Linked DNA regions of Homo sapiens. The protein of the gene in region 4 interacts with the protein of the main gene of each other region in a pairwise test. Each region holds a gene or a part of one and is shown on either strand. Other genes may lie near its edges.

Evidence for each region.
Region 1: the proteins of LDLRAP1 (region 4) and MAPK8IP3 interact in binary tests that used the Homo sapiens proteins (3 or more experiments, as listed by UniProt).
Region 2: the proteins of LDLRAP1 (region 4) and HOXD8 interact in binary tests that used the Homo sapiens proteins (3 or more experiments, as listed by UniProt).
Region 3: the proteins of LDLRAP1 (region 4) and PSD4 interact in binary tests that used the Homo sapiens proteins (3 or more experiments, as listed by UniProt).

Annotation. Positions count from the first base shown.
Region 1 is NC_000016.10:1,701,709-1,709,213, reverse strand, and holds the start of MAPK8IP3 (C-Jun-amino-terminal kinase-interacting protein 3), read right to left. Parts: upstream 3,020-7,505; 5' UTR 2,875-3,019; coding exon 2,557-2,874; intron 1-2,556.
Region 2 is NC_000002.12:176,125,154-176,132,717, forward strand, and holds HOXD8 (homeobox protein Hox-D8), read left to right. Parts: upstream 1-4,551; 5' UTR 4,552-5,213; coding exon 5,214-5,790; intron 5,791-6,163; coding exon 6,164-6,459; 3' UTR 6,460-7,542; downstream 7,543-7,564. UniProt on the Homo sapiens protein: Sequence-specific transcription factor which is part of a developmental regulatory system that provides cells with specific positional identities on the anterior-posterior axis.
Region 3 is NC_000002.12:113,176,962-113,183,982, reverse strand, and holds part of PSD4 (PH and SEC7 domain-containing protein 4), read right to left. Parts: intron 1,638-7,021; 5' UTR 1,527-1,637; coding exon 471-1,526; intron 1-470. UniProt on the Homo sapiens protein: Guanine nucleotide exchange factor for ARF6 and ARL14/ARF7. Through ARL14 activation, controls the movement of MHC class II-containing vesicles along the actin cytoskeleton in dendritic cells. Involved in membrane recycling.
Region 4 is NC_000001.11:25,553,586-25,560,606, reverse strand, and holds part of LDLRAP1 (low density lipoprotein receptor adapter protein 1), read right to left. Parts: intron 6,686-7,021; coding exon 6,543-6,685; intron 5,748-6,542; coding exon 5,635-5,747; intron 3,455-5,634; coding exon 3,340-3,454; intron 1-3,339. UniProt on the Homo sapiens protein: Adapter protein (clathrin-associated sorting protein (CLASP)) required for efficient endocytosis of the LDL receptor (LDLR) in polarized cells such as hepatocytes and lymphocytes, but not in non-polarized cells (fibroblasts).

The DNA.
Region 1 (7,505 bases), on a different chromosome or scaffold from region 4:
TCACTGTGGTAATGACCGGCAAGAAGATGGGAACAGGGATGTCTGCTCTGCTCAGGTTTTTATAAAACCCTGCGGATTCTGTCTGCTCAGAAGCTGCAGTGGCTCAGGTTACCCATCTCTGACTAAGCCTTCTTGAGCAGAGTGGCTGGGGACGGAGCTTCTGCTGACAGCTCACCCAGGAGCTCCTCTGCAACAAGACACGCCTGCAGCGTGTGACGTCCCGCTCCCCTCTTATCAGACACACGTCTATGTGATCACAAGTCCCTGCCTAGAAAAGACGCCGACCCACAGGGCACAATGGTCTACAAAGTTGGAAATGAAGGTCTGCTTGATTCAGTAGAGGAGTAGGCATGCCAAATGTTGACAGCATCGAGCCCTCTTCCTTAGTTGTAAAGCCCTGAGGTCTTTCCAAGGGCGCCCCGTTAGCGTTTAATCATAGCCTCCATGCTGGCCAAGCATTGGCTGGCTTCGGGGCTCGGCTCCCGAAGCTCTCGGTGCAGCTTCTCTAAAGCGCTGGGGCAATGGTGGGTCTCAGACTAAAGGTGATAGCTTTGCAAACCACACGCACACCCGCCAGCTTGGTTCAGCAGGAGCCCTGGGGGAGGGCAGATGCACTCACAGCAGCTTGCATGTGAACCGCACAGAGCTGGGCAGCGCCTATCCTGTGCACAGCTCATTTTTAAGCGGCAAGGTTATAATTCCTAGCCTTAACGTTGTCCATCTTGATTTTCTCCTTTCAGTTCCTTCTCGTCCACTATACTGACCACACAGGTACAAGGTGAAAAAAAGAAACCCACCTGAAATCCAGGTCAGGCCACTGAGTGTGGGAGAGCAGTGGAGGGCGGTGCCCAGCACAGGGGGCAGCCACAGCTCCACAGCTGAGCGAGGGCAGCCCTGGCACTCCAGGCTTCTGGGGAGCAGCCCTCCGGTGCCTGCAGCTGCCTGACATGGAAGCAAGTGCCCAGGCCGGTGTCGGGTTCACTCTGCATCCTGGCTGGGCACTTCTGGGGTGGGTGACCTTGGTTCAGCCCCTCCACTTCTCAGGACAAGTTTCCTTCCCAGTAAAATGCCTATAGTCACCCTGAGCTCCAAAATCCATGAACCTTTGCGTTCCCTTAGGTTGAGAGCTTTAACTCAGCTTTGCTGGAACCGGGGCATTCCAATCAATGCATAACCACCTCGCGACAGACACGAAGCCCAAACGCAATAGAAACCACAGGAAAGGAGGAATGATACAACATACTGTTATGATTTTTATAAACACGCTTTAAACCAAACTAGGCCATAAATCACCTTGGTTTCAGAAAAAGCCAAAATACTGACACAATCTTTTATTTTCCTATTAAAGTCAAGAATGTGTTAAGCCGAATTAATTGAAAAGGAATTGAAGCTCATTTCCTAAGACACTTCTATTCATAAGTCAAACAGCATTACCTAACTCCTAGAATGAGAGAATTTCTGGGCTTGGAGATCGCCTAGTGCAATTCACTCCTTTGATGGAAAATCGAACCCCAGGCAGGCGACAGGCCAAGGTCACAGAGGCAAAGCAGGGATGGGAACCAGCCTCCCTGAACCTGTTTCTGACAAAGGGCGAGGTTCTGGGCCCACACACAGGCAGGCCGAGCTCAGTATCTGACGGTGAATGAATGAAGCTAAGTGGTGCTCCCCACAGGGCCCGGCTCTTGTAACTGCTTCACAGACAAGCGATTTCCAGGTTATGGAGACATCCTAGCACAGAATTAAACGCTTCAAACTCAGACTGTTAACTCCTCAGAAGCCAGAGTGGAGTTTCTCAGCCCTGGCTACATCAGCTAACAATCTCGCCAAGCAAGGAACCAAGGGGGCAAAGACATCACCTCCAGAAACTCGAGTGTTCCTTCTGCTGACAGAGGAGCAGCCCGCCTGCGGCCTTGTTCTGTGTTTACATCAACCACCCAATTCACCCGTGTCACAGACCTTCAAAATACGGGATTAGGGACAAGGGAAAGGTCTCCAACATCATCCACAGACGGCTGCAGCCCCCTAAGAACACCAAAAGATTCCTTTTCTAGATGGGTTTAGAATGGCAGCCAACAGAGGTAGCACTTGGGGTCGGGAAACGGTTTTGACTGAACACACGCACGAAAGCAAAGGCAATTGTCATGCAGAGGTGGGTGGGGAGGGGAGAGTGAGGCCTGGCTTTGAAGCTGAGCTCCCCGGGGATGACGCCAGGCACATCGGGTTTGGGGCTGAAGATTCAGGGCTGGGGGCACGGAGGAGGGGGCCAGGGCCCAGGCCTGGGCGGAAAAGGGGGTCCCCGGGAGTCGGGGTGGGGTCCCGGGGCAGGCGGGGGAGTGCTCTAGGGAGGTGTCTCACGGCGGGCAGAGGGGGTGGGGAAGTCCCGGGGCGGGGGATATGGGGTCCAGGCGGGTCTCGGGGCGGGGTCTGGGGGTCCAGGGGTCCCGCGGTCCGGGGTGCCGGAGCGGGGTCTGGGGTCGGGACGGGTGTTGGGTCCGGGGCCCGGGGCTGGCTGGGGGTCCGGGACGGGGATGCGGGCGGGTCCCGCGGCCCACGCACCTCCTCCGCCTGCCTGCGCAGCGCCTTCTCACGCTCGTACTGGGTGAGCAGCTGCTCGTTGTCCTCGCGCAGCAGCTCCAGCTCCACCTCGTGCTCCTGGTTCTCGCTGAGCACCGAGTCTAGGTTCTCCAGCACGTTCACCACCAGCGGCATGAGCTCCTTGACCACCTCCTCGTCGTAGCAGTGGATGAGGCGCTCGAACTCGCGGTAGATGGAGCCCGCCAGGCCCGACACCCGCTCCGACATCACCGAGCCGGAGCAGTAGTCGTCCTGGTACACCACCACGCCGCCGCCCTCGTCCATCTGGATCTCCATCATCGCGGCCACCGCCGCCGCCAGCGCGGCTCGCTATCCGGCCGGCGCGCCCGGCCCTCCCCAGCTGCCTCAGGTTCCGCAGGCCGCAGCCCGTCGCCTCCCGCAGCTGCTGTCGCCTCAGGGCTCCGCCGCCGCCGCTGCCGAGGCTGCGCCCGTCACTCACTCACCGGAAGTCCCGCCCTCCAGCCGGAGGGGGCGGTGCCCGCGCGTCCCGCCGCAGCCGCGCCGCCAGGGGGCGCAGGGGCCGTGACGTCAGAGGAAGCCGGGCTTCGGGCCGGAAGCGCGGGTGAGCCGGGCAGAGGGAGCTCCCGGCCAGGCCGGTGGGATCCGCGGGGCGGCAGTGGTCGCTTCCCCCAGCGCGCTGTAGCTTGATCATGTCCCCGCAACCGTGGGCTTCCGGTGACCTCGATCCCGTCTCCAGGCTCTGCACACTTCGGCGGACTTAGGTGAAGGCTCAGCGCCTGCGCCTCAATCCCGGCCGCCCTGATGAGCCTCCGTTCCCTACAGCACCGCGCCCCGCTCAGTGCCTCCCCTCTCCTGATGCCTTCCCCGCTCAGCTGGCTCCTCCCGGGATTCTGTGAATGCACCCTCAACGCCCATCTCATCCTGAAACCCAGCAGCGTGGCCTCCTTCCTTTCGCCCACTTCTCCCTACTGCACTGACTGCTTCAGATTTTCTTTTTTTTTTTTTTTTTTGAGATGGAGTCTTGCTCTGTCGCCCAGGCTGGAGTGCGGTGGCGCGATCCTGGCTCACTGCAAGCTCCGCCTTCTGGGTTCAAGTGATTCTTCTCCCTCAGCCTCCGGAGTAGCTGGGATTACAGACCAGCTAATTTTGTATTTTTAGTAGAGACGGGGTTTCGCCATGTTGGCCAGGCTGGTCTCAAATTTCTGATCTCAAGTGATCCGCCCGCCTCGACCTCCCAGAGTGCTGGGATGACAGGCGTGAGCCACCGCGCCAGTCCAGATTTTCGGTTACTTTTCAGCTACGTGCAATCTGTTTAACCCATCCACTGGGTTATTAATTGCACCGATTTTTTTTTTTTTGAGACGGTGTTTCGCTCTTGTCGCCCAGGCTGGAGTGTGATGGCGCGATCTCGGCTCACTGCAACCTTCGCCTCCTGGGTCCAAGCGATTCTCCTGCCTCAGCCTCCTGAGTAGCTGGGACTACAGACACGCGCTATTAACGCCCGGCTCATTTTTTTGTATTTTTAGTAGAGACGGGGTTTCACCATGTTGGCCAGGCTGGTCTTGAACTGCTGACCTCAAGTGATCCACCCGCCTCCCTCGGCGTCCCAAAGTGCTGGGATTACAGGCGTGAGCCACTGCACCCTGCCAATGATTCTGTTTTTGTCCTATTTGATTTCTTATATTCTAGCAGTTTTAATAGGCTCTTATACTTCCAACCACATATTTATCTTTAAGCGTTGGGTGTGCCTCATAACTACAGTATCTGCAGCCCTTGCAGGTCTGATTCTGCATGTCATCCTGGTTGACTCTTGGCCCAGGGTCCCCTTTCCCCCATTCTGAGCCAGTGTCCCCAGGACTTTTGTCTCTGGAAGTACTTGAGGCCTGAACTTAAAATGTGTTGCTCCGTAAGATTTGCACTTTATTTTGCTGGGCAGGGGACACCATGAACCCAAGACTTTGAAACTCAATTTGGGAGCCACACATGTATTGTGAATCCTGATGAAACCACATCAGTGACTATTTAATGCTAATAGAAATGGCCACTTACCGTCTTTCACCTACTGCAATGCTCATCAGTTCAGATCCTCTCATCCTAATCTGATTGCACCGAAACAGTAACTCCCGTAGCTGACACCCTACTGATTTTTTTTGTTGTTCAGTTTTTAGAGGCAGGGTCTCACCCTGTTGCTCAGGCTGGAGGCACTGGCATGATCAGGGCTCACTTGAACTCTTAGGCTCAAGTGATCCCACCTCAGCCTCCTAAGTAGTTGGGTCTACAGGTGTAAGCCACCACTGCTTGGCCAATTTTAAAAACATTTTTGTAGAGACAGAGGTCTCACTGTTACTCTGGCTGGTCTTGAACTCCTGGCCTCAAGCGATCCTCCCCCTTGGCCTCCCAAAGTGCTTAGATGACAGGTGTGAGCCACCATGCCAGGCTCTATTGTGTTTTTCACATTTTCCACTTGCAACATAATTTGCCGTATACATGTTCAACCATCCCACTAAGAGGTTTCATTCAGCCTCAGATTCCAATTTCCTGGGATCCCAAGTGACTTAATTTTGCCAAATCTCCATTTCTTTTCTTTTCTTTTTTTTTTTTTCCTGAGATGGAGTCTCAGTCTGTGGCCCAGGCTGGAGTGCAGTGGCACCATCTCAGCTCACTGTTACTTCCGCCCCCCGTGTTCAAGCCATTCTCCTGCCTCAGCCTCCCGAGTAGCTGGGACTACAGGCATGTGCTACCACGCCTGGCTAATTTTTGTAATTTTTAGTAGAGATGGGGGTTTCACCATACTGGTCAGGCCGGTCTCAAACTCCTGACCTCAGGTGATCCACCCACCTCAGCCTCCCAGTGTTGGGATTACAGGCATGAGCCACCGTGCCTGGCCCCAAATCTCTGTTTCTAAGCCTGCAAAACAGCCTAAAATATCCAGCCTATTAGGAATGTCAGCTAATCCATGAAAGGAGCATGGCGCCATCTCCAGCAAATAACGTGCGATAAAGGTTACGGAGAGTTGTGAGGTTCCATAAAGTGAAAATGATAAGGCTGGGCAAACAGATGTAATCTATAATTCTTCCTGGTGAACAAGTTAGAGCAAGCTTGCATTTTGGGGGATGTTTAAAGCTTCTGCTTTATACCTTTGAGAAACTTGAGCCCTTTGAATTCCTGAGGTAGCACACTACAGTAGGAACAATGCTACCACAGGGAGAGGCCAACAGACTTGGCCATCAACTCAATTGATTAATTATCACTACCATGATTGCACAGATTTGTTACTTTAAGTTGGTTAAAATGAAATTTTAACAAGGTGCTGGATAATTCTTGACACTTATGGAATCATACAACTGGTCTTCTCCTGAAAGTTGGTGCTGAATTAGAACTGCTTACAGCTGGGCATAGTGGCTTACACCAGTAATCCCAGCACTTTGGGAGGCCAAGGAGGGAGGATCGCTTGAATCCAGAAGCTTGAGACCAGCCCGGGCAACATAGTGAAACCCAGACTCTACCAAAAAAAAAAAAAAATCAGCCAGGCGTGGTGGTGCATGCCTGCAGTCCCAGCTACTTGGGAGGCTGAGGTGGGAGGATCACTTGAGCCTGGGAGGTTGAGGCTGCAGTGAGCAGATTGTGCCACTGCACTCCAGCCTGGGTGACAGAATGGCTCTGTCTAAAAAAAAAGAAGAACGAACTTCTAGTAACAGAGGAGTTGACTTCCTTTCAGATTCAGAAATACTATTTGGGATGCAACTTTTTCTCACTAAAATACCTTAAAATGTAAGATGGGCATTAAAATATAAAATGTAAGTTTCTAAAATTCAACTTTAATTTCTAAGTATCTGCCCTGATGCCTGCTAAGAAGCCACACAGTTCCCTGTGATGTTCCTCTCATCTTCATGAGCTGAGTTTGAGAGAGCATCTTTAGATAGCACTTTGTAGCCACACATTACACAGGAGTATTTCAGTGATGATCTTCAAGATGGTCAGGATTATGAGTGCAGAAGAAATTAAGCAGCCAGCACGGGAGGAGGCATCTACACACTCACAGGGTGTGACCTACCAGGTACACCACAAAGATCATATGGCAAAGTTACCTGACATCAAAAGAGCCTGTGTATTCCTGGACAAGGCACGGGGCTCGAGGTGGCAACCCTTCGGGGTCTGTTATTCACACCCTCACCCTGTACCAGGTGGCACCCGCGTCCTTCTAGACTTGGCCACTGCCAGGCCTCTGGAGACGGAGGAGCTGTGACTCCCAGAGGTTCCCATGCTTGCTGGTGGCCTTGGCAGCTGCTAGAAATAGGAAACTTAGCGTGTCATTTCCTAGCCTGGTTCTTGGAACTCGCTCTATACCCTGTGGATGAACAAGTGAAGACGGTGTTTCAGTTAATGCATGTTGGTTTTCTTTCTCAAGCGTTGACTTTCATCTCATCTGGCCCCGATCTAGCAGGCAGAATGGTGTGGAGCCTCCTAGAGAGGAACTCTCAGGCTCACAGTCTGAGAAGTTTACCCTGAATCCACATAATGCCTGTAAGGATATTAAGTATGTTAGAAAACATATGAAAATAGCTAATACATCAGAAGAAAGACATCCAATCTGTTTTTTATTTTATTTTTTTACACAGGGTCTTGCTCTGTGGTCCAGGCTGAAGTGCAGTGGCATGATCATCACTCACTACAGCCACAACCTCCTGGTCTCAAGTGATCCTCCTGCCTCACTCAGCCTCCCGAGTAGCTGGGACTACAGGCATGCACCACCACATCCGGCTAATTTAGAGAAGTTTTTTTTTGTATAGACAGGGTCGTAGTATGTTGTCTAGGCTGGTCTCAAACTCCTGAGCTCAAGTGATCCTCCCACCCTGGCCTCCCAAAGACCCAAAGACTACAGACCTGAGCCACCATGCCCACCTGTTTTCTTGACAGGACTTGCATATGACAAGCTCTCTGCTTCTCCT
Region 2 (7,564 bases), on a different chromosome or scaffold from region 4:
TTCAAGGTCCTCCACGAACTCTGTGCTTGGGCCCAGTGTTAGCCTTGCAGAAGCGCCCAGAAGAGCCAGCAGGCCCCAGAAGCCAGGCACTTTCAGGCTGGGGCTTGGGTACACAGCACCCTAACCTTCCCTGGGCTCCTGAAGCCCCAGATGCCAAACCCCTCTCCAAACAAGGGAAAGGCCAACTCTACACTCTGGAGCAACTGTCCCAGCTCGGTGGGGCTAGCTGGCTCCGGGAGGTCCCAGCTGGTCAGGCTGTGAGCTTCTGCTCCTCCCCACCAAAGCCCCAAAGTGACCTTAGCGATCAAAATGGTCAAGGCTCTCCTCCCCAGCCACCTCCATTTCACCGCCCCCTTCCCCCCACCCAGCTTCTGTGTATGTTTAGCCCCCAGCTTGGCCCTCTGAGGGCTGCATTCAGGGGCTAAAATGAAGGTCATTGTAAGTGAGGGTTTGGGTGAGCACAGCATTTGCAGGCCAAAGAGGCAGCACTGCCAAGTGGCCTGAGCTGGGTGGAAGGTGGGGGCGGTGGCAGAGATCTTGGGGGATCCCAATGAAAGAGGGGACGCGAAGAAAAAGCATAGGGGGGCTGGGAGGGAAAGCCAAGGAAGGCCCAGATCCGGCAGAAGGTGCTGCGCACCCCTGCCACTGTGGCCAGCTGGGTACCTAGGGCTCTTTGAAAACAGGAAGAGCCGAGGTGTCATAAAGCCATCTAGCGGGCCAGACGTCTGGAGGTAATGAGTTTACGACAGGCCCAGTGCTTTGCTTTGAAACCATCTCATTTTGATGTTTGTGTTTGTGGGAGAAAAGGAAAAATGCAGACAAAACTGGGTCTTAAAATCTAGACAATAAAATATAAACAAGACTGCGTTGGACCAAGAAGGCAGGGGCATGGGAGCCCCCAGGTGAGGTGTGAGCACCTAGGAAGTAAACATGAAAGAGGTAGGAAGGAAGAGGTGAATGAATTTCTGATTTTTGAAATGAACCAGGTAATGGAAGTAGCCTAAGGAGATGGCATTTTACAATATTTTGACTATGACCACGGTTTAGCTGGTTCTTTAGAAACAAACAAACAAAAAAATTGGCCTGTTATCTGGGGATAGGGTGGTTAGTGATCTTAGGTCATTTACCCAGGTGAGAGTCTCCCAGAAGTGTGGTTCGCGGGAAAAGATGAAGTTAGATGCCTATTCACAAGAATCTCTGGCCCTCCACTCCAAACTTTGAAGCAAAATGTTGTTGAAATTTATGTCTATTCACTTATAAAAAAATACAATTGTTACACCTAAACTGGAGGAAAGCAGTTTTGAAGATGAGTAAAAAGATTAACCTAACAGGAAACACTTAAGCCAATTGAATAGTCATTGCTTTTAAAAAAAATTCTAGTGGAATGCTTAGTTCAATGACTTTTGATATATATTTTTAAAATCCCATTTATTGTCCATAGAAATTCCAACAAACAGAAGCGCAAAGGGACTTTCCAGACAGCCACTCAGAGATCCAGCAAAAAGCTTTTGATTTGGCTTCGATTCCCCCCAAAATCGGCCACCTAAGTGGGCCCCAAAGCATTAAAGTTACAGTGTTAAAGTAGCAAATATTCATGATTTAATCCTAAAAGTAACAGCTGTAAGAGAAAAACAAAAACATAACAATACTTGATTTCTGTAATTTCTTGGTTGCCAAAGTGTCTGGTTCCTCTGGAAAATAAAAAGCCTCTTGGCAGTTGATATTTAGAAAGTTGTAGGTTTTGTTAAATCTAGCCTGTCCTATAATTGTTTTAAAAGGCACAGCTGGGCGGTTACAGCATGGGGACTTTTGGTGTCTGGCAAAAGAAGGGCTGGAAGCTTTTGGAAAAGACACTACTGGAAGCTGTTGGGAGCACTGATTAGAATATCCTAGGCATACAGGAGCTCCTGCTTGCTGCTCTTGACTTGTTGACAGTCACAGGAATGAAGCATTATTAGTGTCAGCAGTCCAAGCCCCAAATTGAAGAACGAGATTAGAATTGGTTTGAGATGAATAAAAATTAAATTCAGTGGACTGGAGGTGGCATTTGGCCACTAGAGAGCGCTGTTGCTCCACTTTCTGATCTCGTAAAGCTGGAATTGCGGCGGAGAAAGGTTTTGATTAAAAATATTAACAATCTTATTTTTAATCCGAAATTAGGATAATTTTAACCAAAAATAAACAAGGTGTACTATTAATTTCTGTGTTTGCTGGGCATAAAATTTTGGCTCGATCATGGCTTCAGAAACTTTGGACTGTGGCACAGCTGAAACTATAAAACATGATAAATTAATGTATTATATCAAAACAGAAAGCTGTAAAAAGCATAGATCTTTTCTTACTAAGTTAATCGCGCTCTTTTTCTACTCATATTATAAACGGAATGCTTAAATAAATGTTAAAAACTGTTTTGTCCCAAGAGGAAATGTTGTAACGTTTTCTAAATTTGGCCTGAATGTCTATAAATGAATTTTCTAGTGTTCATTTTTCTTTTATTCCCCCGAGGAATCACACAGTTCTACAAGATGCCTGGTATTGTTGAGATCCAGGCTCTTTCATTTTCCCCCCCCCCATTCCATTCCAAAATCCACTCATTTATCCAGGGTTCAAACACACACACACACACACACACACACACACACACACGCCAAACTGAAAAAAAGGGGCACAATTACAAAGGTAGCTCCAAGGCTTTATTGACAATAATAATCTTTTAATTGGGCATTTGCAAGATTGAAGGACAAATCCTTAATTGTCAGAATCAATTCGTTCGCCTTCGGATTTAAAGAAAGTCATTATACTTGGCAATAACCAGCAGAAAAAAAACCCCACAAAAACAAACAGCAACAACAACAAAAAAACCCTTGCTCTCCACCACCCCAAGTCTGCACTCCTTACTAATTTAAAAATTAAATAAAGCATGCCTCTGTCATCTCCAGATTCATTAACGATTCCTTTACCTTTCAGTCATTCCCAGTAGAAATAATTGAGTCGGACATTATCACCTTGCTATGTCTGTCCATCTCGATCTCATTTTCTCCATTTGTAAAAATGATATTTCAGTCCACCCGGACACAAGTCAGGATCGCGCTCGCAGGCTGGGCCAACCCACAAGGAGCTAGGGGTAGCTGAAATCGCTCGCCAGCCTGCAGCATCTCTGAGGCCGTCTGGGGTTTTCGGAAATTTGCATTTGGTGTGGAAAGCCGGCGTGGTGCGTTTAGCTTGAGCAGGGGCGCCTTGGAGGTCTATTTCCAAGGCTGTGGGCCTGGCGCCCTCACGACATTGTACCTATCCCGAAGGAAACGGGGCTCAGTCACCCAAAGAGCCCACGAGAAAGGCCGAGCAGGAGAGGGGAAAACACACACACACAACAGAGAACCATTGCATTTATTGGACATTGAAACGGGAGCAGAGAGGGAAAGGAAGTGTGTGGGGAGGCGGTTGGTAGGGTAAAGCCAGACAGCTTTGGAGAGAGCTGCTAAAATCGGGAATATTTTGTCGATTCACACTCGACTGGGCCACATGACTCGGGCAACTTTTCTTCATCTCTGCTCACAAACTAGGCTGAGCCTTCTCTTTCTCTGCTTTGGGAAAAATTCGTAACTTTGAGGCCTGCGCGCTCTCTCGGCAGTAATTTCACAGGCTTGGCGGAGGAAGTAGGATCGTTAGCATAAGATGGGCCGCCTGCAGCTGCCTGGAACCGGCGCGATCTGAACGCCGGCTGGGAGGCTCCTGGGGGGAACTTGCGGTCGTCTGCCCTCCGCACTCCTCCGGGAACCGCAGCCGGCCCTGGTTCGCTGCGCGCCGGGGCTGAGACCCGGGAGCCGCGTCCTGCCCGAGGAAATGTCACCCTCCCCAGCGCGAGCCCTTTTTCCCGCCTCAGAACGTTTCTGTCCGCTCTTCTATTTACTCTCTCAGCAAGCCTAATGCCCCCTCCTGCATTCTTCAGCCTCCCCCTGCGCCCAGGGCTGACGTCTATCAAGGGTGAAATGATGGAAACTATATTCATGGGCATGATTTCCATTAAATATCAATTAACCTGAGAGCCTCGGCCAGGCTTGCGGTGCGTCAAGGGTAAATGTACATCTCATTTCCACAGGGCCCGCTCGGCTGGAAAAGAAAGGCTTTGATTTGCTTTGATAACGCCAGGATCTGGGGCCACACTCGCGGCTTTTAATTAAACCACTTCGATATGCCCCAACTCAAATGCACGGTCCGGTCCGTCAACACCTCTTGTCCACGTTCCCTGGGCTGCACCCGCGTGTCCAGAGCTGCAAAAGCCACGGGCAACCTCTGCTTTTGCAGCCAGGGGCTCGGGGAGGCAGTCATTTGCTCCGCAGCCTCCTGGGAGTGGCCTCCTTGGCTCCCCCAAGTCTAAGGCTCCGCCGCGGCCCCTCCCTGCCGGCTGCGATCCGCATTCCCGCGGCCCCGGGGCACACGGAGCCCTTGGCAGTGCGTCTTTATGGGCCCCCTTTAAGGCCGGCGGAGGCATCTCGGGCCGGGCGCGGCGCTCCGTCCGTCGGCCGTAGCGACTGAACTGCGCGCGGATCCCTCCGCGGGGCTCCTCGTCCCCGTCACGCTGACTTTCCGTGCAGTGCTGTGGTGCGAAAATGCCTCGCCGGTGCGCACCGGGTCGGCAGCCTCGGCGGCGGGGGCGAGATTGGCGGGAGGGGGGCGCGGGGGGGGCGCGGTAAGAGGTGGCGGCGGGCAGAGGGTGTTTTTTTTCTTTTCCCTCCAGAGCCGGGGTTTGTAAACCGAGGCCAGAGTGTCCCCGTGGGCCGAGCGCACTTTTTTCTTGTCCGGGTGCGCTCAGTCACTGGTGCCTGAGAGGAAACAGTGGAGGCAGCGGGGCAGGTCGCCTGGGGCGTCGGCGATTATATTGCGGCCGAGCCGGGGCGCGCCGGGAAAGGCCGGGAGGGCGGCGGCGCGCGGGGGCTGGGCGAGGCCCCGCGACCCGCGAGGGAGGCGGCGCGAAGCCGAGGCGGCGGGCGCAAGAGCCGGGCATGAGCGCCCAGTAGCTGAGCGCCCGCGGCTGCCTGGCCTCAGAAGCGACGCGCGAGCGCGGGCGGGCGGCAGCAGCGACGTAGCCCGGCGGTCCCGGCGGCGAGAGCAGCCGCCCCACAGGCCCCCGCGGCAGTGCGGCCGAGTCGAGGCTCGCTCTCTGGCTGCTTAGCGCCGCCCGCCCGCCCGGGGCCGCCGCCGCTGACGCCCCAATGAGTTCGTACTTCGTGAACCCGCTGTACTCCAAGTACAAGGCGGCGGCTGCGGCGGCGGCGGCGGCGGGCGAGGCCATCAATCCCACTTACTACGACTGTCACTTCGCGCCCGAGGTCGGCGGCCGTCACGCCGCCGCCGCAGCAGCCCTGCAGCTCTATGGCAACAGCGCCGCCGGCTTCCCGCACGCGCCCCCGCAGGCGCACGCGCACCCGCACCCGTCCCCGCCGCCCTCCGGGACTGGGTGCGGCGGTAGGGAAGGCCGGGGCCAGGAGTACTTCCACCCCGGCGGGGGCAGCCCGGCCGCTGCCTACCAGGCCGCCCCCCCTCCTCCTCCGCATCCTCCGCCTCCGCCGCCACCTCCCCCCTGCGGCGGGATTGCCTGTCACGGGGAGCCCGCGAAGTTTTACGGATACGATAACTTACAGAGACAGCCGATTTTTACGACCCAGCAAGAGGCCGAGCTGGTACAATATCCTGACTGTAAATCGTCCAGTGGTAATATTGGCGAGGACCCAGACCACTTAAATCAGAGCTCGTCTCCTTCTCAAATGTTTCCGTGGATGAGACCACAAGGTTGGGATGCATTTTTTTTTTAAGAAGGGAGAGGGGGAGAAATCTGCTTTCATCTCACGTTCTGGCTTTAAAACTCCCGTTCCCTCTCCCCCTCCTTTTCCTTCTTGTGTAGCCACAGTGGCTCTTATTCATAAAGTAATACAGACTTTTTTTAAAAAAGTAGGAACCATGTAAAGATGATGGGGACAGAATAATTGTGAAGACCTCTCTGCTCCTCTTGCCTGCACACCCTATATATATATATCGGAGCTAAAGAGCTCTGTGTATATTTCACCCCGTAGACCCCCGTTCCACAAACCTCCAGCAACATGCAGAGGTACCATAACATTTTTAAAACTTTTATTCCCCCCCCCTTTTTTTTTGTTTTAATCAGCAGCTCCTGGTAGACGAAGAGGAAGACAAACCTACAGTCGCTTCCAAACTCTAGAGTTGGAAAAGGAATTTCTTTTTAACCCCTATCTGACCAGGAAAAGAAGAATCGAGGTTTCCCACGCCCTAGCCCTCACCGAGAGACAGGTAAAAATCTGGTTCCAGAACAGGAGAATGAAATGGAAAAAGGAAAACAACAAGGACAAATTTCCCGTTTCCCGGCAGGAGGTGAAGGACGGGGAAACGAAAAAGGAAGCCCAAGAGCTGGAGGAAGACAGAGCCGAAGGCCTGACAAATTAACTTCTACCTTTAAAATTTACCACAGACTATTAAAACTAATAATCACCATATGCTGTGGACACCACCTATTTTCTTTGTTGGAAAGGACCTTACCTGTGTTTCAAGCTACCTTCATGTCACTGCTCTTGAGGTTTTCTGTGCTTTGAGAGGGATTTGGGTGTTTAAAAAAGTTTCTAGTATCACATAGAAGCTGTCCTTGAGCTGTCCTATGGAAGGGTAATTTGATACTGACCTTGTAGCTATATTTTTATAATGGTTTTTAATGTCTGAGCTAGTGATTTGCCTCAACAACGTAAACTTCCTAATGATTAGCACTTAATAATTGCATATAAAATGCTTTATTAATTAAACAAGTGCACTTGAACATTTTAATATTTGTGGTGAGTAAATTAAAAGGAGTTTATTAATTAAAAAAAATTATGTCTGCAGAATACTTTATATTATTTGATTACAATGTATTATTTATGGATTTTTTATTCTTTCCTTTATAATGAATAGTTCGGGTGCGTTTTGTTTACTCCTAAAAGGTTTCTTTGCGTATTTTCTAAATGTAATATCTCGGGGAAAATATTAGAAAAGCACGTATTAGCTGAAGAATGTAACTTGTAGTCCAGCTCTGCAGCTTCCTTAAACTTAAGAAAAAGATTGGGCCAGTGACAAGAATTTAAAGACAATGTCCAAGTTGACAATTATTTTTCTATAGTCCATACAAATTAAATAATCTGGCAACTCTGGCAAATCGCCTTGTAAAATGCGTCTCATTTTTTAACTTGCTTTCGTTTTGAACCGCCCTTGTAATCGCCTGAAATCGCTAGTTCTTTATGCGGTGGCTGCCGCTGTGTTCCGTTATTTTCAGTAGGTGTCATATTTATTTGTATTGCCTTTGTTCTGTTCGCCGCTGGTTTTAAACCAGCTTGCTGTGTGCATCTCAGACGTCGGTTGGTACGTCCTCCGCTGTTCTTCAGGAAAGCGATAGCCTCACCTATTTGAAACAAGCCCTGAGAGGAAACGCAGAAAAACCTGAGTGTAAACAACTCCGGAATGTCGCTAGCTCCTTAGTAAATAAATGAATCTCTTTCTGGAGCTAGTGTCTTTGAGCGCCGCA
Region 3 (7,021 bases), on a different chromosome or scaffold from region 4:
GCTGAAATCTGTCAAGAAGAGAGAGGACTGGACTTTTGAAATAGGCATCTCTCTGTTAGGGGCAAAGGTCACCCTTGCAGGCTGAGCGCTGCCCTGTTACAGTTGGGAATGTCTTGGAGATGGGAGGGGAAGAATCTGAGAATGGCCTGGAACATGCTGCAATTGGAGGAGCTGTTTGTTCTCCAAACGTATCTAGGCATGGCCCCTTGGAGCTGGTGAGATGGAGACATTTATGGACTTAATTATCAGCTGACATCAGCTGACATCATGGCATTGATAAAATGTCCTATCATTCTGAAGACAACACTGGTCCTGATTTTCTGCTCTATTACCCTGCTATATACTGATGCAGGTTATCCCCAAAGCTCTTAGCGTCAGAAAAGAATGTTCTGGGCCTGGTGACCCCCGAGGAAGACCCTCCCTTCTGTGTTCCCAGCACAGCCCCGGTTGGTTCCCAAGACTGGGCTTACCTCACTCTCCCCGTGACCAGGAGGTGCTGCAGGAGCCCCCTCAGCGGCAGCCACTGAGGCCCAGCAGATGGAGTGTGGTTTATAGATGGGCACAGGGAATGGAGGGGTACAATGCCCACTGATAGCAGCGCCGTCCCCCAAATCTGGCTCACTTTCCAGCTCCCACAGCACTGTGTCTTCTGGGAGGGGAGGCTCCAGAGTCGCTGGGCTCTCAGGTCCAGTCCTCACACCTGCATGGGAGTCTGAAGCCCCCCAGGAAAAGCACTCTCCAGAAGCACTGTTCTCTGAGCAAGGACTCGCCAGGAAGAGGGGGTTGCTGAAGAACATGCTCTCCTCCTCAGCTCCCCACTGTGGGGAAGAGTCTGGGGTTCCCTCTCTCAGCCATGCCTGGCCCTCTCCCTCAGGCTCACTGCTGTCTTCCCCTGAGTCTTCATTCTCAGGTGGGCTGGAGTGCAGGCCCGTGTCCCCGGGGAGGTCCACAGGGGGCGTGGGGAGACAGCATTTCAGCCCAGCCTTGAGCCCTTCCGTCTTCTCCAGCTCCTCCTCCAGGTCTAGGACACACATCTGGGCCTGCAGGATGCCTGCCCAGAACACTACCTGTGTGGACGTGCTCCGGTTCTGCTTTGGGCTCCCCGGTAGATGGCTGTTCACTGGTGACCCTGGTGATGCTGTGTTCTGCCTGTGCTCCCTCTGGGCAGAGGGGCTCCCCAGGTGTGTGAGCTCCACACCGGAGCCCCAGGGAGGAGCATCTTGTCTGGTAGATTCAGGAGGGTCAGTGGCCCGGGTTTGCTCCTGGCAAGGCTCCAGCCCGTCCTGATGGACCCAGCTCCCCAGGTGTGTGAGCTCCACACCGGAGCCCCAGGGAGGAACATTTTGTCTGGTAGGTTCAGGAGGGTCAGTGGCCCAGGTTTGCTCCTCGAAAGGCTCCGGTGGATCCTCATGGCTGCACGTTTCCCTTGGGCACTCTCCTGGGTGGGGCTCCAGGCTGTCTCCCAAGTACAGGTTGAGAATTTCCATGGGCTGGGGGTGGTCAGGGAGTCTGTAGTCACCCATCATCCACTGAGCAAAAGCTGCCCAGGAGTGCCCCGGAGCATCTGCTTTCACGGTCTCACTGTGTGGACTAGGGGGAGCACTGGCCGCTGGAGAAACTGGGAATCCATATCTACCCTGGAAATGCCCAAAGCAAGTGCAGGTTAGGGAAGGGCTGTCAGCCTCTGGAGGCACGTGTGTAGTGTGTTAGATGTGTTTGGAGTGTCTTCCCCATCTATGCCTGCTGCTCCTTAGCACTGCCCTCCACAGCCCTGCTGGGAGTAAGGAGTGTACCACATATTCCATCTGATCCCACAATCTCTAAACTTGCACCAGGGCAGCACCTGCCCCAAAGACACCCATCTGTTGGCTGAAGGTAGCCCATGTGGCTTAGCTGAAAAGAACAAACTGGCCAAATCAGATCCTTCTCTTGGGCATTTGGATTGGAGAGTGTGGAGACCGAGGTGGTTGGCAGCAGGAACTGAAGGCGGAAATGCCTCTAGGTATCAAGGAAGCAGCTGCAAGCCACAAAGGACATGTAAACCAAAGCATGTGGGAGCCAAACAGACACAGACGAGGTGAGGAGAATGCAACAGACTCATGGAAGAAGCAGGCACCCACGACATGAAGGCCACAGCCTGCCTTACTTCCACTTTCCAAGGCTCCTATCCTTGGGGCCTTACCCTGTTCACCAGGCTGGCTCACAGCCTGCTTCTTTGTCCTTGTAAGCTGTTGGCAGCTTGGAATTTGGCCCAGGTGGAAGCAGCAAGGGGCTCTCTGCTTAACTCAGCCCAAGCCCTCATGAAGGGAGGATGCTTCAGCCCTGCTGCCTACCACCCAGCAGACTGCCTGCTGCATGGGGAGGAGATCTCTGCCTTCTAGGGAGGAAGAGGCTGGGATGTGGCAGCCATGTCTGCCTGGAACTGCCTCACATCTGCCCAGAGCTGCTGTGTGCACAGCCTGCACTAACACTCTGGGTGGGCCCTTATCAGATGAGCCCAGGAACCTCGCAGGGTGTTTTCTAGAAGCATGCATTTCCATCCCCTGCATGCAGCCCACCGCTTACACGGCTCTCAGAGCAGCCCTGCTTCCTCAGAATAGCTGGCTTGTTTTGATCCAAAGCACACTGTGAAGCTTGTAACTTGTTTGTCTCATGGTGCTGGCTCTCCACAAAGTGGAAGTGCAGGGTCAAGTACACAGGTCCTTATGGCATGTCGTAAGCACTCCCCTGGCAGCTGTCTTTTTTTTTTTTTTTTGAGACAGAGTCTCGCTCTGTCACCCGGGTTGGAGTGTAGCGGCACAGTCTTGGCTCACTGCAACCTCTGCCTCCTGGGTTCAAGCGATTCTCCTGCCTCAGCCTCCCGAGTAGCTAGAATTATAGGCGTCTACCACCATGCTCTGCTAATTTTTTTTTTTTTTTGTATTTCTAGTAGAGATGGGGTTTCACCATGTTAGCCAGGCTAGTCTCGAACTCCTGACCTCAAGTGATCTGCCCACCTTGGCCTCCCAAAGTGGTGGGATTATAGGTGTGAGCCGCTGCACCCAGCAGCTGTCTTTTCTTATTTTCCCTTTGCCTCATTTTCTTCACTCACAGATTTCTATCTTGAAGGCTTACGTGCGTGCTTGTGAGCTATATTAGAATATTTTGGGGAGCAAGACTATTAACAAACACACACATGCTCCCAGTTTATAACCACGTGTGACTTCCAGATACCCAAGAACAACAGCCCCTTCCACATGCAGTTAACCATGCCTGTCCCCACCCACCACTCCCCCAACCTCGCACCTGAAAGATGAGCAGTCCCCTGCGTGTCGCTGTTTAACAGATGAGGAAGCCTTAGCCTGAGTCTGGCTTAATGACTCACAGCTGGTGACAGGGGCCGGACTCCGACCCCAGACCATCCACCTTCCGGTCTGCAGCTCTCTCTGCCCTTTCCCTGCTCCAGTATGAAGAGAGTGAGCCCAGGTGGCCTCGTCCAGGGCTCCAGACCTCACACTGAGATCCTCCCACAGGCAGGCTGTAGGACAGGAGCTTGACTGGCATGCAGGGCCCTAACCAGCACACATAACAAACCCATGGGGGTCAGCTCCTCCCTGCCCAGCACTAGAGAACATAAGCTGAATCAATAGCCACATGGACTGCAGCTCAAACCCTCGTCCTGCCACATACAACTGAGTGGATAAGCCTGGAAAGTTCCTTAGCATCTGGGAGCCCCACTGCAGTGGGGAGCTAGGGTTAACGGAGGTGATTCGCGCGGCCTTCAGCCCAGGCTTGGCCCACTGTTAGACACTCAGTAAATGGTAACCCTCAGCGCTCTCTCACGAAGGTCAGGGGGTCCAGCTGTTATTCAAGGTCACCTAGAAAACATTGCTTTGCCCCACGCCTTTTTTCTGGAGGGCACCTGAGAGAAGGAAGGAGGGCCAGTATGCATTTCAGTTTCTTATTCACCTTGAAAGTATCCTTTTTCTAAAAGTGCCTCCAAAAGAAATCTCTTTCTGGGTTTTTACCCCTCCCTCTGACCCAACCCTTGCATTCCTGTTTTAGAATAACAAGAATCTAGACTTGCTGGATGACACCCTCAGGATTCTGATGTTCCAGCCCACCCGGAATGGTCCCTGACCGGCCTTCAGGGCCCTTCCACCTGTTAGTTAAGGCAGCCTCCCCAACAGGCTGACTTTCCGAGAGGAGAGGCCCTTTCTTATGTTTAATCTTGTACTTGATGCTCTGAATCAAATGGACCAGATTTGGTCTCATCAGAGATGTTTGAACCAGAGTGGCTCCATCTTGAATAGGGGCTGGGTAAAATAAGGCTGAGACCTACTGGGCTGCATTCCCGGGAAGCTAGGCATTCTAAGTCACAGGATGAGATAAGAGGTCGGCTCAAGATACGGGTATCCTTAATCCAGCAGCCCAAGCGCTGCTCTGCCTATGGAGTAACCATTCTTTTATTCTTTTACTTTGCTAATAAACTTGCCCTCATTTTATGGATTCACCTTGAATTCTTTCTTGCACGAGATCCAAGAACCCTCTCTTGGGGTCTGGATTGGAATCCCTTTCCATTAACAGTCTTGCCTTTCATTCTTCTCCTATGGATCCAGCCTTCACTCATCATTCTAGGTTCTGCCTCTCCACCTCCCACCACTACCTCCAGGTAACAGGCAGAGGATTTGTATGGTTTACTCCTTAAGTCCATACCACTCTCTGCTCCCCATGCAGCTGCCCATTGTCACCCTCAGTGCTCTCTGGGCAAGAGGCCTGAGACGGTTCTACTTCTAAGGCAGAAGGGATGAGGAGCCTCAGGATCTATTGTCTATACTAGGGAAAACACCCTGGACCCCAAATCTCCCTCCCCAAACCTGCCTGGTGGAGAGCAACCGAGTGTGAGCAAGGAGGTGACTCACCCCACCACATCCCACTGCGCCTCCTCAAGACACCAGCCCATGGGGTATAATAAATGACTAGGAAGACATGTTTATTTAGAGATAGAGGGGAAAGCTGGGGAGAAGCACCTGGTTTACAGGTACCAGAACATAGGACATCCCTAGCTCTACTCAACTGCCTCCCTTCCCAGACCCCAAAGCCACCCTCCACGTCTCTGTAAAGTCCTGGTCTTTGGGCCCAAATAGTTCTCCTGCCATGCAAAATCCCTGATCCCTTCTCCTGTTCTCATTCACCCAACTCCACACATTGTACCTGAATGAGTGCCAGCCTCATGGCCCTATGAGCCCCAGAGCATTTTGCCAGGATAACGCCAACCCACCTTCTCTCACCATCAGTCAACTCACTTGGCAAGAAACGTTCCCGTGCCAATATGGGAATGGGAGTGGGAATGCGGGGCTGGGCCTGCTAGAAAGGACATCCTGAATTTTTCATAAGATGAGAGGAAACCCCACTTGTCTCTCTTTGCACATATGTACTTGCAAATAGATATGTATATGTACATAAAGCAGCCCTCTAGGTACACGCTAATGCTGATACTAGATACAAGTGAGGATTGGACTTGCCTTCCCAGAAAAAAACCAGCGTTCCTTGCTGGGTTTTTTCAGAGGAAAAAAAATAAATACCAGAGGCTGCAGCAGCTTTCCGAGCAAAGAGAAGAGAGCAGATCTCTGGGGCCTGCAGCACCTGAGGAGCCTGGGAGGGGTGGGGGTGAGGAACTGGTCAGTGGAGGGGAGCCCAAGGCAATGGAGACAGGAAGGGTGGAGACAGATCAGGTATTCAGTGGGGACAAGGCATGTAGTTTGACTGGCTGCGACATTTTTTTTTAGACGGTATCTTGCTCTGTCACCCAGGCTAGAGTGCAGTGGCATGATCTTAGCTCACTGCAACTTCTGACTCCCAGGTTCAAGCGATTCTCCTGTCTCAGCCTCCCAAGTAGCTGGGACTACAGGCACCCGCCATCATGCCTTGCTAAGTTTTGTATTTTTAGTAGAGATGGGGTTTCACCATATTGATCAGGCTGGTCTCAAACTCCTGACCTCAGGTGATCCACCTACCTTGGCCTCCCAAAGCGCTGGGATTATAGGCATGAGCCACAGCACCTGGCCGGCTATGACTTTTTAAACCAATTAAACTCAATGTGACTATACTCCACCCCTCGCTTTTACTTTCTGAGCGTTTATCCCGGTGTGTAGTTGCCAGTGTGTTTACCCGCGTGGTTCTAGTTTGCCTAGAAGGTAAGCACCAAGATGGCAGGTTCTTTATGTTTCCTGTTCGCCACTGTGTCTCAGTATGAAAATATTGAATGGCATAGTCACATTATGTAACTGATTTGTCAACCACTCCGACCCACAAGGTCTGGGGGCATACTTTAGTTCAACTGGATTTGAAATTTAAAGATCAGCATTGACTTGAGGGGTTTAGTTCAAGTGGATTAGAAACTTAAAGGTTAGCGTTGACGTAAGAGGTTCAGGCCCCCCTGTGACTTGAGCTGGTGTGCGAACCCAGGTTACAGCTCTCTTAAGCATCATTCTCTCCTCCTGCCCCACTGATCAATTCTCTTGGACATTCCTGAATTCACTTGAGTCACTCAAACTCCTGTACAGCGCCTCCTTGACTGAGAGTCGGCGTTGTAGAACATTTGTGAAAATAAGAGAGGGGATGGCTAGATGAATGGACAGACAAATGGAGAGACACACTGATGGGATGGATCCTCAGAACTCTCCCTCCACAACAACCAGGCCAGAAGACGGGGAAGACCGAGGCTTGGAGAAGAGAATTAGCATCATTATAATATGAAGGCTTCCCCACGGGGGCCAGTCTGCCCATGACCAATCACCTCATCCTCCCCTCTCCAGGAAGTCCAGTGCTCCAAGGGCAGTGCTCCCCCAGAGGTAGGTTCCTACCAGGTCAGCAGCCAAAATGTCCCTGTGGGTCTTGGCTCCCAGGCAGCAACCCGAACAGAAAGGAGGACCCATTCAATTGTCTTGTTTGTGCTCTCCATTTGTGCAGGGGGCACTGTGTAACTGTGTGTTTAAAAGATGTCTTCCTTCTGTTTTTTAATTGCTCTTGCCTGAATGGA
Region 4 (7,021 bases):
TGGGGGAGGGAGCAGCCTGGCCCCGTGCTGCCTGGGTGGAAATGGGGGTAGCACTTTGCTTACCATCAGCCCAGGCCCAGCACCTGCATGACACCTTCACTTTGGAGCCCAGAGGCCTCCCGGTTGGGCAGATGGAAGGGATTCCCTGGAGGAACCCTATGCTGGCTGTGCCCAGCAGCACCAGGGAGGGGAGACCTGGGGTGGCTGTGCTGCCCCAGAGTTGAACGGACTGGTGGGTGATGTAGAAAGGAGCCTTTCTCCCCCAACCTCAATGGGTCATGAACTCATTCCGGCAGCCCAGCCAGGAAGAGTAGGGATGTGGAGGCCCCCAGCCACAATGACTGACGTTTTGTCAACATCCCGATTCAAGGCCCTCAACATCCTGATTCAAGGCCCTCAACATCCTGATTCAAGGCCCACTGCAAACGGAAGCTGCCTCACCACCCACCCCAGGGGAACCATTTCACTTCGCCCCTCTGCGTTTGCACGTGTGTTAATCCCATGCTGGTGTGCACTCCCCACCCACCACCCCACCCCCTTCTCTCGGCCTGGCAAACTCCTCCTGGCTCCTCAGCCTTCAAAGCCCCATTCAAGGTGTCTGTCTCAGGGAAGTCTCACTGACTCTAACTTCAGGGAAGTTAGTGAGATTTACTACCACCCCAGAACTAAGCCCCCCTGGGTTCCAGGTACTGATGCTGGGCTGTTCTCTACCGCCTTGGATGTTTTCTCCATGGCTCAGGCCAGGACAGACGGTGCCAAACCTCTGTGGCGGAGCTGCCAGCAGGTGCGGAGGCTGACGCAGCTATTCCATCTCCTGCCTCCCCCAAGAACACTTCCACTTAGCCCAAGAATCTAGGATTTCCAACATGTCTAGGCCACCAACACACTGTCAGCCTGGGTTGGGCTAAGACCTTGAGGTAGCAGGTGATGTATTTACACCATGCTGGGCTGCGCTGTCTTGGAGAGGGCTCCGCAGGGCCCCTGAAGCAGGGAGGCCAGGTAGCAAAGGGTAGGGAGATGGATAAACCACTCCAGCCATCAACCCAACCTGAGAAGAATACACTAAGAAAGATGAAGAGTTTGGGTGTCTGGCAGGGGCCCTTCTGCTGCCTGGTCAGGGCTCTGCAGTCAGTGGCTGAGCAGCGGCCTGGCTCTGTTTTCCTCGTAACTGACCTCATGGCCTGAGGGTAGGCTGATTTCACTCAAGTCTGTGTGAAGTTCTCTGACCACAGGCCAGGTCTCCCTTGTAAGAGCTGGGCCTGCACCTCTCTCTTACTCCCAGACCCCTCATCCCAGAGGAAGCCTCTGCACCGTCGAAGGCCCCTCCCACCCAGGGCCAGCTGTCCCTGCCCAGGGCCTGCCCTGGTCAGCGGGCAGGAAGAGATGAACAATGGGGACATAAGGAGCTGTATTTTTAAGTCTGTGTGGCCTCCTAAAAGACAAAGCCACGAGTCACATCTGTGGGAACTCACAGGAGATGCCACAGCAACTTGGAGCCCTGGGACCTCACGAGGCAAGTGGCCAGTGACACTGAGTCTGCAGGAAAGAAACAAGGTGTTCAAAAGAACCCGGGGCCTTTCAGAACAACCCTGGAGGTCACTGAGGCAACCTTCTCATTCTGCTGATAGGCAAGCAGCCCAGAGAAAGGCAGGATCTTCTCCAAGGTAACACAGCAAATCAGCCAGGAGACCGCTAGACTGTCTCCTCCTACAGTGCCTCTTCCATGACACCTGTGGTGGGCTGAATCGTGTGTCCGCCCCCAAGATGTCCACATCCTAATCCCTGAGACCCGTGAATGCTGCCTTACACAGCAAACGGGCTTTACAGAAGTGAGTTAAGGATGTGGCGATGGAGATTATCCCAGATTACTCAGAGTGTCCAAATGTCATCAGAAGGAGTGCTGAGCGGGGTAGGAGAGTCAGAGCTAAAAGCAGCAATGTGACGATGAAATCAGGAGACCAGAAGATGCTACATTGCTGGCTCGGAAGATGAGGACAGGCCCACAAACCTGGAAATGCAGGTGATCAGTCTCTGGGAGGTAGAAAAGGTAAGGAAATGGATTCCCCCCAGAACCTCCAGAAAAAAACACAATCCTGCCGACCTAGTTTAGACTCCTGATCTACTTCTGTCACAGAATACATTTTTCTTCTCCATAAGAGAATACATTTGTGTTTTAAGCCACTAAATTTGCGATCATTTGTTACAACTTACACAATATCTAAAGTGTGTCCTGATGGGCAGCAGGAAGCCTGGGGACCACAAAGACTGTGATGTACCTGACATGTCCTTTGATGACAGGGGAGGGAAGGGGATCTTGTCTCCTAGGTTCCAAGGGCTATAGGGCATGGGGACTGGGGCTCAGAGCTGTCAACAGAGGTTAACAGGTGTCAATGCTACATCAATGGATGTCAGGAAGCACCTTATAGGGAGAATGCTCAGATCCTGGGGGTCTCAGAAACAAAAGCTGCAATGCCAAAGGTTGACCCACTCCACTTCTTGCCCCCAAATTCAGGACAAATCCCCCGTGACCACCAAGGTTCCCACTCATCCCAGCTAAGATGTGGTCAGGGGGTGTCCTGGAAATGAGACAAGGAGCTCTGAACTCCCCAGTCACGCAGGGAGGGGAAGAAACGTGGGTTTAAACCCCCACTCTAACCCTGACAGCAAGATAGCTGGCCTCTGGGAGTCTGTTTCCTCATTAAAACTTTAAAAAAAAGAAGAAAAAAAAATGGAGAGAGTAACAGTTGCCACCTTGCAGAGCCGTGAGAATTAAACGAGTGAAGACCTGGAAGCCTAGCACTAGAATGCACACACAGGAGGCACCGAGAGACGGTCACTGTCCTCCACACTCTGGTCACAGCTGGAATGAACTCACAGGAGGCACCAAGAAACAGCCATTGCCCTCCACACTCCAGTCACAGCAAGCCTGGTTCTCTGACGGCTCTCGCCTTTGCCTTCCACCCTAGGCCCCCCTGATCTCCCATTTCCGAGGACCAATCACCAGAAGGCCCTGCATCCCTAGACCATATTAAAGACAGGAGATCCAAAACAATCTCAACCCAGCAAATCCCGTTACAGAGAGAACAGGCCCAGACACACACTGGGGACATGGGCCAGCTACTGCCCACACAAAGCTGACCGGCGGTTCACCTGCCTGCCTGCAGCCCCACCACTGTACCCCTTAGCTCTCGGCACCCACTTGGGGTTCCCAGAGATTTCACCCTCTTCTTAAGTAATGGTCACCTTTGGGTCCTGCCTCCCACACCAGACAGCCCCCCACCCAGAGCAAGGCTGCCAAGGCCACTGGACCCTGTCCCCGCCCCAGCCCTCCCCGCTGACCATCTTCCGCTTGGTGCAGAGGAAGGCGTGGCACTCGAGGCTCTGGTTGTGCTGGCTCTGGGCGATGTATGCAAACACCTTGTCGTGCATCTTGTCTGCTGTGCAATAGGAGATCCTGAAAGGCAAGGAGGAAGCATCACCAGACCTGGCACAGGGGCCTGAGCACATGTGGGAAGCCCTGCAGGGCAGCTCCCCTGAGTTGCAGAGAACCTGCTATTCCCACTCCACCAGGGCAGACTCTGGGAATCCAGCCTTGGCCTCCAGGCTGGGTACCTAGGCCATCTGTGCAGGAGGGGCCCAGGCCAGGCAGGAAGGAAGGAATGGGGTAAAGACTGGAAGCAGGGCACTTCCCCCTCTCCCTCCCATCCCACACTGAGCCACACCCCAAAACAGTAATAGCTGAACCCTTACCACATACCAGGCAATGTGCCAAGAGCTTTCTAGACCTCACCTCATGTGATTCTCAAAGCTACCCTCTGAGACGGGTTCTATCACTATCCATGTTTTTCAGATGAAGTAAACTGAGGCTAAAGACCTGAGCCCAGACCTGAACTCACTTGTAGGACTCCAGAGGCCATGACTGCCATGCTGCCTCTTAAGGCTGTGTGCCAACTGGCCAGAAGGGGAAGCAGAAAGCAGGACACTCCCCTGCTCACCAATGCCCTTCACCTGGCCTCCCCCACCCCACCTGCCCTCCGATCCATGCCCCTGCCCAGAGGTCTGGTGAGATTCAGGTCCATCTCTCTCAGGGTGACTGGGACACTTGCAAGTTCTGGAGCTGTGGCCAGGGGTGAAGAGCTGGGAGTAGGGGTGGGGTGCGTGTGTGACGAGGACCCAACAAGGAGCCCCAGTGGGCCCGGGAGGAGACACACAGCAACTCCCTCTGCATGGAGCACCCTCTCTGCCCCCAGTCGCACCTGTAACCTAGGGGCCACCCGAGCCCTCGGCCTCCCACCCTCCCTCACTTGTCTGGTCCCTCCTCGTTGCCTCCAGTCAGCCTCAGAGTCTCAATCGGGGAGGGGCCGGTAGCCCAGAGGTGGGGCAGGAGCACCACAGACTCACCCCTCAACCCAGAGGTGGGACAGGAGCGCCATAGACTCACCCCTCAACCATGTGGCCCCAGCTTCAATCACAGGCATCAACACCCCGGTGGGCAGAGCGTGAAGGTGTTAGGTCCCTGCCTACCTCTTCTCCATCCCAGGGGGTCCAGCTTCCTGCTCTAAATGTTACTGGGTCCTTGGTAACAACAAACTAGATCCTATTATTCTTCAAGCCCCAGCAAGGTGCCGCCTCCCCTGGGAGGCCTTCCGGGATTTCCCCAGGCAGATCTCCTCCTTGCCTTTTTGGAACACTATGCTCTATCTCCTGTTTCCTCCCGACTATACCCAACTAGAGTGGAAGCTCCTTGAGGGCAATGAGCAGGATTGGAGTCCTCATCTGGCACAGACGTTGGCAGAATAGGTATCTGAAACTGTTGACTAAAGGAAGGCAGGTATGATCAGGCCGGTGAGAGGAAGACATCAGCCAGACCCCCACAACACACATCTACTGACCCTACTACTGGCCTGTGCACCAACGGGCTGAGCCATCTGCTTAGAGACAAAGCAAGAGGGTGGAGGGATGCCAGGCAGACGGGAGCCTGCTGGACAGGGCTCTGGCCCGGATATCCTAGTTCCAGTTTAGCTACTACCTCACTGTGCAGCCTTAGGCAATTCCCTCTCTGGGCCTCAGCTTCTCCATCTGTAAAATGGACCTGAGCTGTCCCTTCCAGTTCTGAAAAACTACAACTGACCAGCCGAGAGAGGTGGGGATAGTCTGAGGCTCTAAGGGCTGACCAGAGGACCCACTAGAGAGACCATCTATACTCTGACTTCAGACCTTGGCTGAGGCCTCCCTGGAATGTCTGGCCAGATACCCAGAGCTGAGCTGCTGCATTCACAGCAGAAGGAAAAGGCAGTGACTCTGCAGTTCTCTGCTCCAAGCCCGACTCAGCGGCATGCTGGTGGGGAGTAGGGGGGAAGGGCACGGGTGGGCTCAGCTGTCTTCTGCAACTGGTGATGATGACAGCAGCAGCTGCCACTTAACCAAATGCTCATCATGAGCCAGGTGCCGTGCACTCCACGTTTCCTAACAGCGCTGTGCAGCAGGATCTGTTCCCACCCCCATTTTACAGATGAGGAAACTGAGGCTCCAATGTCACCCAGGTAGGAAGTGGTAGAGCCTGGATTCAGATGGGATACTCCACCCACTGCCCCAAGTGGCAGAGTGGATGGGCCAACCCCATGCTGAGCGTACCTGTATATGGACACGTTCTCAATGAGCTGGTTGGTGAGGTTGTCTGTCAGGATAATTCCCCGTGGCGACACCTTCAGAGTCACCTTCTGCAGCTTCTTCCCACTGGCCTTAGCCTTGGGAGCAGACAGGAGTCAGAGGAGTCTGCCAGCCTCACTTGAGACCCACCCTCATGGCTTACACTTCACTGTTCCTAAGCCCCAGGCACGGGGCCCATCTCAGCTCAGGTGACTGGCAGCAGTGTGGGCAAGACCACTCAGCCAGCACCTTCTTGCAATAGAAACAGGAGCAGCATCTGCTGAGCACCAGCTATCTGTCAGGCACCGTGGACCTGGAGTCATCCTCCCTCTCCCCAGAGATGGACTCAGAGAGGCTAAGGGACTTACCCAAGGACACACAGCTAGAAGGGCCTGCAGACTCGGCACTGAATGAGCTAGCACAACCCAGCAGGATGACTCCTGAGTACTCTGCTCCATCCATTGAGCTGAGGGGTCTGAGGCCACCAAGGGAAGTGGATTTAAAAGGCCCACCCTTGCTCAAAGTTAGGGAGGGGGCAATCTGCTCTCTGATGGGCTATGCTGTCTCTCAGGCCATTGGGCAGGTAGTCAAGGGAAAGCAAACTCCCCACCCTTCCTGGTGCTGATAAGTCACCAATGCATTGGTAGGGAGCCTGAGCTGGGGGTGGGGAGGCTGGAAGAGGCCATAATGGCTGGAGGGAAGCCACTAACCGTGACCTTGCAAGTCCAATGGTTCCCCTCTGCCAAGGCCCAAAAGCTGGATGGAAGGAGAATGAAGGGCAGGGCCAGGCTCAGACACACCCAACTGGAGTAACAAGCTGGGACGAGGGCACCCTGGGAAGAAGCTGGTCCTTGGTCCCTGGTTCCCCCACCCTTCCTGACTGGGGTGCTCACTGTAGCCACGATCCTCTTGATGGCGGCGGCCGACAGCTCCTCACCCTTGGGCTGCTCCACTAGCGTCATGCCCAGGTACTTGAGGCTGAACAGCATCCCCTCCAGCAGCGTCTCCCGCGTGTCTGTCCAGTTCTCAGGCAGCTCTGGGGTAGCACAGGGTAGGCCCTCAGACCCTGCGGCTCAGGGCCCACCACCAGCAACAGCTCTCACCAGCCTTCTTTCCTAGGAAACCCCAGCAAGGGGGATGGGGGTCTCCCCCACCACTACTGCCACTCTTTTTTTTTTTTTTTTTTTGAGACTGAGTTTCACTCTGTCACTCAGGCTGGAGTGCAGTGGTGCGAGCTCAGCTTACTGCAACCTCTGCACCCCAGGTTCAAGCGATTCTCCTGCCTCTGCCTCCCGAGTAGCTGGTCTCGAACTCCTGACCCCAAGTGATCTGCCCGCCTCAGCCTCCCAAAGTGCTGGGATTACAGGCATGA